2 linked regions of the Homo sapiens genome follow. The protein of the gene in region 1 purifies or fractionates together with the protein of each later gene. This does not show direct contact. Each region holds a gene or a part of one and is shown in the gene's direction. Other genes may lie near its edges.

Evidence for each region. The genes of interacting proteins can lie anywhere in the genome.
Region 2: the proteins of ONECUT1 (region 1) and CDS1 purify together in Homo sapiens (affinity purification with mass spectrometry; one large-scale study listed by BioGRID and IntAct). This does not show direct contact.

What each region holds. Positions count from the first base shown.
Region 1 is NC_000015.10:52,783,837-52,787,336, reverse strand, and holds part of ONECUT1 (hepatocyte nuclear factor 6), read left to right. Parts: intron 1-3,500. UniProt on the Homo sapiens protein: Transcriptional activator. Binds the consensus sequence 5'-DHWATTGAYTWWD-3' on a variety of gene promoters such as those of HNF3B and TTR. Important for liver genes transcription.
Region 2 is NC_000004.12:84,586,127-84,589,626, forward strand, and holds part of CDS1 (phosphatidate cytidylyltransferase 1), read left to right. Parts: intron 1-3,500. UniProt on the Homo sapiens protein: Catalyzes the conversion of phosphatidic acid (PA) to CDP-diacylglycerol (CDP-DAG), an essential intermediate in the synthesis of phosphatidylglycerol, cardiolipin and phosphatidylinositol.

The sequences.
Region 1 (3,500 bases):
GGGTTTGGGCGCTGCAGGCCACCGGTCCCAAAGCACCGCGCTGGCTGAGACTCTGCCCTGCCAGGTTTTCCAGCCCAGCTCTGCCTTCGTTCGCCCCAGGCAAAGTCCTCATGCAGGTTCCTGCAGCCTGCGCCCGGGAACCAGTCAGGGGAGAAGAGGCTCGCTGGGCGCCCCAGCGAATCGCTGGCCCCCGGTTTTCCACTCTCTAGCTCTTGTGCTACCGGCACCATATCTCCACCCGTGGGCTGCCCGCGAGCAACTGAGGTTCCGGAGGGAGTGGGCGAAGGGGCTGCTCCTCGTCCTGACTGCTCCGTCTCTCCAGAGCCCAAGGTAGTGCCTTTTCACACACCCACACCACCCCAGAGCCAGGCTTCAGGGCCTCTTACCCAGGCAGTGCCCGCTGAAGCCAAAGAGTGGAGCGGGGGAATGTGGGAAGAAGATAGAAATGGAGAAGGCTACCCCTCCGGGAAAACTCGGTCCCCATCCCCCACCCCCGCCCCCTGGAGGCTCTTGCTCTGGACTTCAATATCCCTCCTCCCCCCACTGCCTGCTGTCGCCCCCTGGAAGGACAGACTGACACGTTCTGTTCAGAGACGACCTCTGAGCCATGGAAACCTGGCCGCAGGAGCGCCCTCTGACCTCCAAGCGTGGAGAGCTACATAGCCGAGCTCAGGGGACGGCACTGTGGAGGGGGAGGGAGCCTGAGTGCTGGGACCCGCACGCTGGAGGCGCAAACATGGTGCCTGGCAGGTGCTTGTGGCACCCAGGAGGCTATCGAAGGAGCGCCTGCCTGGGCACCCAGCAACCTGTAGAGGTCCATGCAGCCCTCGGCCCTAGGCCCATGGCCTTTTCCTCGAAAAAGTGAAACACTGGAGAGTCCAGCAGGGCAGGCATTTGGCACCAAACACCAAGCCGACTCTGTGTCCTGAGACCCTGAGGAAGCATGTCTATTACATTTTTGTTTCCTTAACTTAAAAGGGATGGTGGAAAGGGCTAGGACTGAGGATTCTGTGTTGGTCCAGGAGGGTCTCCTGCAAGGAACCAGGAACAGTCTCTTCACAACCTATTTTTAAGTTACTGAAGAAGGAGCCATCTCATTAACATTTTCATATTTTAAAAAGAGTGGGGTTATTTTCTGAACTTTCCAAATGATCTCTAACGGGCCAAGTGCATGAGCCTTAAAATGGATTGCAGAGCGCCTTGGCCGTTCCTACGGGACATTAGTGCCTGCCCCCCACTACCAGCTCCCATATGGGGAGGTGCCCCTGGCAGCTTTCCTTGCTGTTGCGCTCAGAGACCCTCCCCAGTCTCGTTCCAACCACCTTGCGAGGTCAGGGCTCACTGAGCTCGGTTCCTTCGCTCCGCAGCGGGAGAGTGGTGGCTTCTCCACGCCCCTCTGTCCTCCAGTTGCCGGCAGCCTGTTGCAGAGGGTCAAAACCCTCTTGCACGTGGCGCTGTGTTTGGGGAGGCGCCTTCCGGTCACGAAATAACAGCGGCTGGTGGAAGAAGGGCGACAGGAGGAAATTCCCACCAAATTAACTACCTTTTAAAAATCAATATATGTTCCCTCCATGTACTACTTGCTGCTGCCCCATTAAAGAGCAGAGCGACAGGGTTCTCGCCGCGTCTCCTCCGGGATGAGGCGGGGGGTGTGGGTGGGTGGCGCGCCTCTGACGTGGGCGTCTATCAAGACCAAGATTAGTTTCCAATTAAAGATTCCAGAGGGCTTCGGCCACACAGCAGGAGCTGCCGGCTCGGAAAGAGACAGCGACACACACCCAACAGCAAGCGCAGCACCGCGGACCCAGGGGAAGGCGGCGCGCAGGCCCGAGGTTCGGGCGGGGGTGGGTGTTGGGCACTCCGACCCTGCCCTGCGGGACTTGGAGGCGAGGAAACCTCCAAACCCCGCGGGGGAGTTGGCGGCGCCCCCTTCCCGTCCGGTGTTTGCCCCAGAACGACCTAAGAAGGACCTGAGCCAAGGGGGGAGGGGTTCGGTCGGGGGGCGGCCATGAGAAAGTCTCGCCCAGCCCAACCTGGGCTGTGTTTGCCCTGAGTGGCCTTGCGGCCTGGTTGATTGATAACTGGCCCCTGCACAAGTCCATTTGCTTTTTTGTTAATATTTATCCCGGGGTGACATTTCAAATGTCCCCCTGCTTTTCTGGGCCATGGGAGTCAGGCAGGAGTGCGGGGCCCTAGGCAGAGCCCTTCAATCCTTGAAGACTTCTGGGCCGGGAGAGAAGCCAGGACTGGGCGTGTGGGACGCAGGAGCTGGAAGCGTTCCTGGGTCCAAGAGTTGGGGGAGAAGGAGTCAAGCGCAGCGGTTTCCTCGCGCTTCGCGTCTTGGCGCTGTGGGTCTGGTGTCGCGCAGCTGCTCCCAGCCCGCTGCGGCGCGAACAAAGGGCCAGCAGGGCGCGACCGACCGTGTCCGCCTCTGAGCCCGGGGCGAGGGGCGCCGCCAGCTGGGAGCGCCTCCTCCGAAGGCCTAGGATGGCCTCCTACGGAGACCAAGGAGTCCCAGAGCCCGCCAGGCCGAAAAGTGGCAGTGCATCCCGGTAGTCAACTGGGGACCCTCACACACACACACCTAGCCGACTGCAAAACCAAAAAAGGTCTCGCTCCTGCGGACAGTCACCAGAAGGCTCTGCGTGGTGCCTGTCTCACGGCCGGTGTCTGTCCCCTCGAGGGTGTAGGACCATAGTTCCCCCTGTGTAGTTCTCTCTGTGTAACGGGCATAAACCCGGGTGAGGAGAGGGAGGTGCGCTTGGGGATAAGAAGTGGGCTCGTGGCGACGACTGGAACCGCTATGGCTGGGGCAGGGGAAACCTACTTCTGGGGCTTAAGGGGGGCTGATGGCTATTGTGTGGCGACCTTGGTGTCAGCGCAGCTAGGATGCCTGCCAGAGACGAACTCCACTACCTGTTCGGAGGTATGCGGCTATCCCGTCAATGGGTGCAGCACCTATCGCCCTGGAAGCATCCGGAGAGGGATCCCGGTAGCTGGGGCGACCAGCCTGACCCAGGGCACAGCGGTTGCTAGAGACCCAGCCCCGACATCGCCGCTTACCACCGACACTTGGGTCGGACAGTGCCAACAATAGCACGGTTGTGTTGTAGCAGCAGAGGACCCAAATCCCAGGATGCGCCTCTCCTTATCTGCAAGCCTCGAGCCCTCCGCGCTCCCTGCTTCCCTCCATTCGGCTCCCTTTCTGGGGGTAGCCGGGCTGTGCTGCGGCTGCGGCGCGCGCCCCCTGCGGGCCGTCGGGGCTGGGCGACCCGCGAGCGTCCGTGGTTCAGCCCGCGGCAGCGAAGAAAGGGATGCTTGCTGCGCCTTTGTTTTTAGAACGTCGTTGTTCTAGTGAATTTCAAAACAATAACTATTTTGATAGGAAGAAAGTGTGAAGGAGGAAGAGAAGGATATCTAGAGGGTCTGTCGGGGTACCTAACAATGCCTGGGTGTTACCCAATTCATGAAAACAAAATTCTCATCTTCCGAAGTACACC
Region 2 (3,500 bases), on another chromosome or scaffold:
AGGTCCTGAGAGCAAAAGGAGGAGGCATTGCTTAGAGCAGTGGTCCCCAAATTTTTTGGCACCAGGGATCAGTTTTGTGGAAGACACTTTTTTCCACGGATGGGTTGGGGGGATGGTTTCAGGATGATTCAGGTACATTACATTTATTGTGCACTTTATTTCTATTATTATTACATTGTAATATATAATGAAATAATTATACAACTCACCATAATATAAAATCCATGGGAGCCCTGAGCTTGTTATCCTGCAACTATACAGTCCCACCTGGGGGTGATGGGAGACAGTGACAGATCATCAGGCCTTAGATTCTCATAAGGAACATGCAGCCTAGATCCCTCGCATGTGCAGTTCACAACAGGGTTCAAGCTCCTGTGAGGATCTAATGCTGCTGTTGATCTGACAGGAGGCAGCGCTCGGTGGTAATGCGAGTGATGGGGTGTGGCTGTAAATACAGAGGAAGCTTCACTCGCAGACCACTCACCTGCTCTGCAGCCGGGTTCCCAACAGGCCCAGTTCCTAACAGGCCGGTACTGGTCTGTGGCCTGGGGGTTGGGGACCCCTGGCTTAGAGGACATCATCAGTAGTACTTAGGAATAAGGGCTGAGATAGAACGTGGAGTTTAGCAAAAGATCTAAGTAGAAGCAAGTTTAGGTTGAGGAAATTGAGAGGTGAAATGTTGGTAGTTATTGTTATAAAGTGGCAGTGAAAGGAATACAGGATGGCAACTAGAGAGACAGGAGGATTAATGAAGATTTTTCTTTTCAGAGGAGGGGAGATATATATTTGTATGAAAGTCAAATGAGTAAAGATGTTGAAGACAATGGGTAGGCCCTAGGAAAAAGAAAGCAAACATGGGGTAGAGACTATGGATTATTGGGATATCCAAGGAAAGAAAAGAGGGATGCATGTCTTTTCCTTAAGAAAAGAAAGACGGAATGAAGAGTGGATACAGGAACATTTTGAAAAGCAGAAAGGAGAAGATCAAATGTTGGATGCCTTCAGTTAGTAAAGTAGGAACTCAGAACCAATGAGCTTCAAGGGATCTTAGAAACAACTTGGTTTAACTCAATTCATATATATTTGTATTTGTATATATTTATATATAATTTGGTATATATACAATTAAATTTTAAACAATAAATTTGTATTCAGTTGAATCTTCACTGAGTTTAATAATTCTGTATAGTTTTATAATAGTTACCTTTTGGTCATTTCCTATCACACTTCCCAAAAATGACAGTTCAGATGTGTTCCAGTCACGTTCAGTGTTGTGTGACTGTGTGTTAGGAATATCCCCATTTAATAGCTGAGAATAAGAAAAGCAATGGGAGTGATTTAGGCCTGGGGAGTGCCAGAGGTCCAGGATGTAGGGAATTAGAGAGTCAGTGAAGCCAAGATTGAAGTGGATGACCACAGATTCAGGTCGGCAGGGAAGTGGGCTGGTGAAGATCTAATGGGTTGAGTGGGAATGAGTATTGAAACAGAAAGAGCTAAGACATGACTTATGTAGAGACCAAGGGAGAACTTCCCCTCTGCCCTCTGAAGACTTGCCAGAAAAAACTGACAACAGGTAGATTAATCGGAGAAATGGCATACAAGTTTATTAACGTGTGGGGTGGGAGGAGGGAGACAGAGTGATTACCTGAACCCCAAGAGGCTCAGAAGCTTATATACCATCTTGAGGCAAAGGTGGTCCTGTCATGTAGATGAAACCTCATAGGGAGGAGCCCTCAGAGAGAATAGATGGTGAATATTTCTTTCAGACCTTTAAAAGTGTCAGACTCTCAGTTAGTCTTTCCTAGATCCAGACAAGAGAGAACCTTCAGAGAAGGCCAGGTTGCATCAATGCAGATTTTCTCTACAGACACAAATCTACCTCACAAAAGACAGCTTTGCAGGGCTGTTTGTTTGCAGGCCCTCTGAACAGCCATCTCAAAATATGTCAAAGAAGTATAATTTGGGGTGAAATATTCTGATTTCCTTCACTTGCTAGACCCTGAAGTGGGAGAAAAGAGGGTGCACATTGAGGCTGTGGCCAGTCAAGGGGAGCACACGTGGAATAGTGTGCTTTCAGGTAAGATCCCTGTGTGTTTGTGCATGGGGCTGCTACTTAGGGATTTTGGTTTGTGAAGTTGAGGAGAAAACAATCCAGAGATCAGTTAACGTCTCTCCTCCATTTGAGATGTGTGCAGCTTCTTTCATAAATACATTATTATTTTCAAATAAACTTTTAATTTTGGAACAACTTTGATTTATGTAACCACCCCACAGGTTCTTCTTTCTTGCTGCCCAGATAGAACTGGTTTATCAACACGGGAGAATTGCAATAGAGAAAAAGAGTTTAATGCACACAGAGCCGGCTAAACAGGCGGCCAGGGTTTTATTATTACTCACATTAACCTCCCTAAAAATTTGGAGGCTAGACTTTTTAAAAGATAGTTTGGTGTGCAGGGGGTTAGAGAATGGGTGCTGCTGATTGGTTGGGGAGGCAATTGCAGGGGTATGGAAAATGGTCCTTGTATGCTGAGTCCATTTCTGGATGGGGGGGCCACAGGAGTTGCTGGTTTGGGAGGAGTTATCCAGTCATCAGAAATATAAAAATCTGAAAGTGGTCTATCTTTTAAAAGGCCAATCTTAGCTTCTTTAATAGTGATATTATGTGTAGAAGTAATTGGAGAAGTTGCAAATCTTGTGATCTCCAGACCAGTGGCTGGTAATTGTTTACATGTAATCACAACAAAATTCAGTCCCCTCTCATAATCCTAAACTTGTGACCTTTTATTAGTTTTATAAAGGCAGTTTAGTTTAGGGAAGAGCTGTTATCATTTAACCTGTAAACTAAATTCTTCCAAAGTTAGCTTGGTTCTCACTTGGGAATGACCATGGGCAGCTTGAAGGTTAAAGGCAAGATAGAGTTGGTTAGGTCAGATTTTTTTTCACTGTTATGATTTTCTCACTGTTACAGTTTTTGTAAAGGTGGTTGGTTTTATTTACAGAAGCATTACAAAGATTTCTATGTACTTTTCACCGACTTTCCCGTAAGGTTTGTATCTTGCATAACCGTGGTACATCGGTCAAAACTTAAGAAATTAACATAGCTATAATATCATTTTAGACTGTAGATACTATTCAGAAATTCACTGGTTGTTCCACTATCCATTTACTGCCCTGGGATACAATCCGAGATTCAACACTGCATTTAGTCTAGTTTATTTTGTTATTGTAAAAGCCTTATTGTGTTTTTGTAAATTACTTCTTCATTTTGGTACACTTCACTACAGGTTGTGCTGATGTCACCTGTAAGTGTAATGAACATTTTCTATAGTTTTTCATCTAGATCTAGGCCATTAATAAAATACTAATGTTTAGATCTAGATTTCTGGACTACCATTTGGGCTGATACTCCCTAATTGTTGATAAATTATCAGTCAGTATTACCACCTAAATAATTTTCCATGATTCAGCTTTTATCATGCACAGCATATTCATTTCATTTA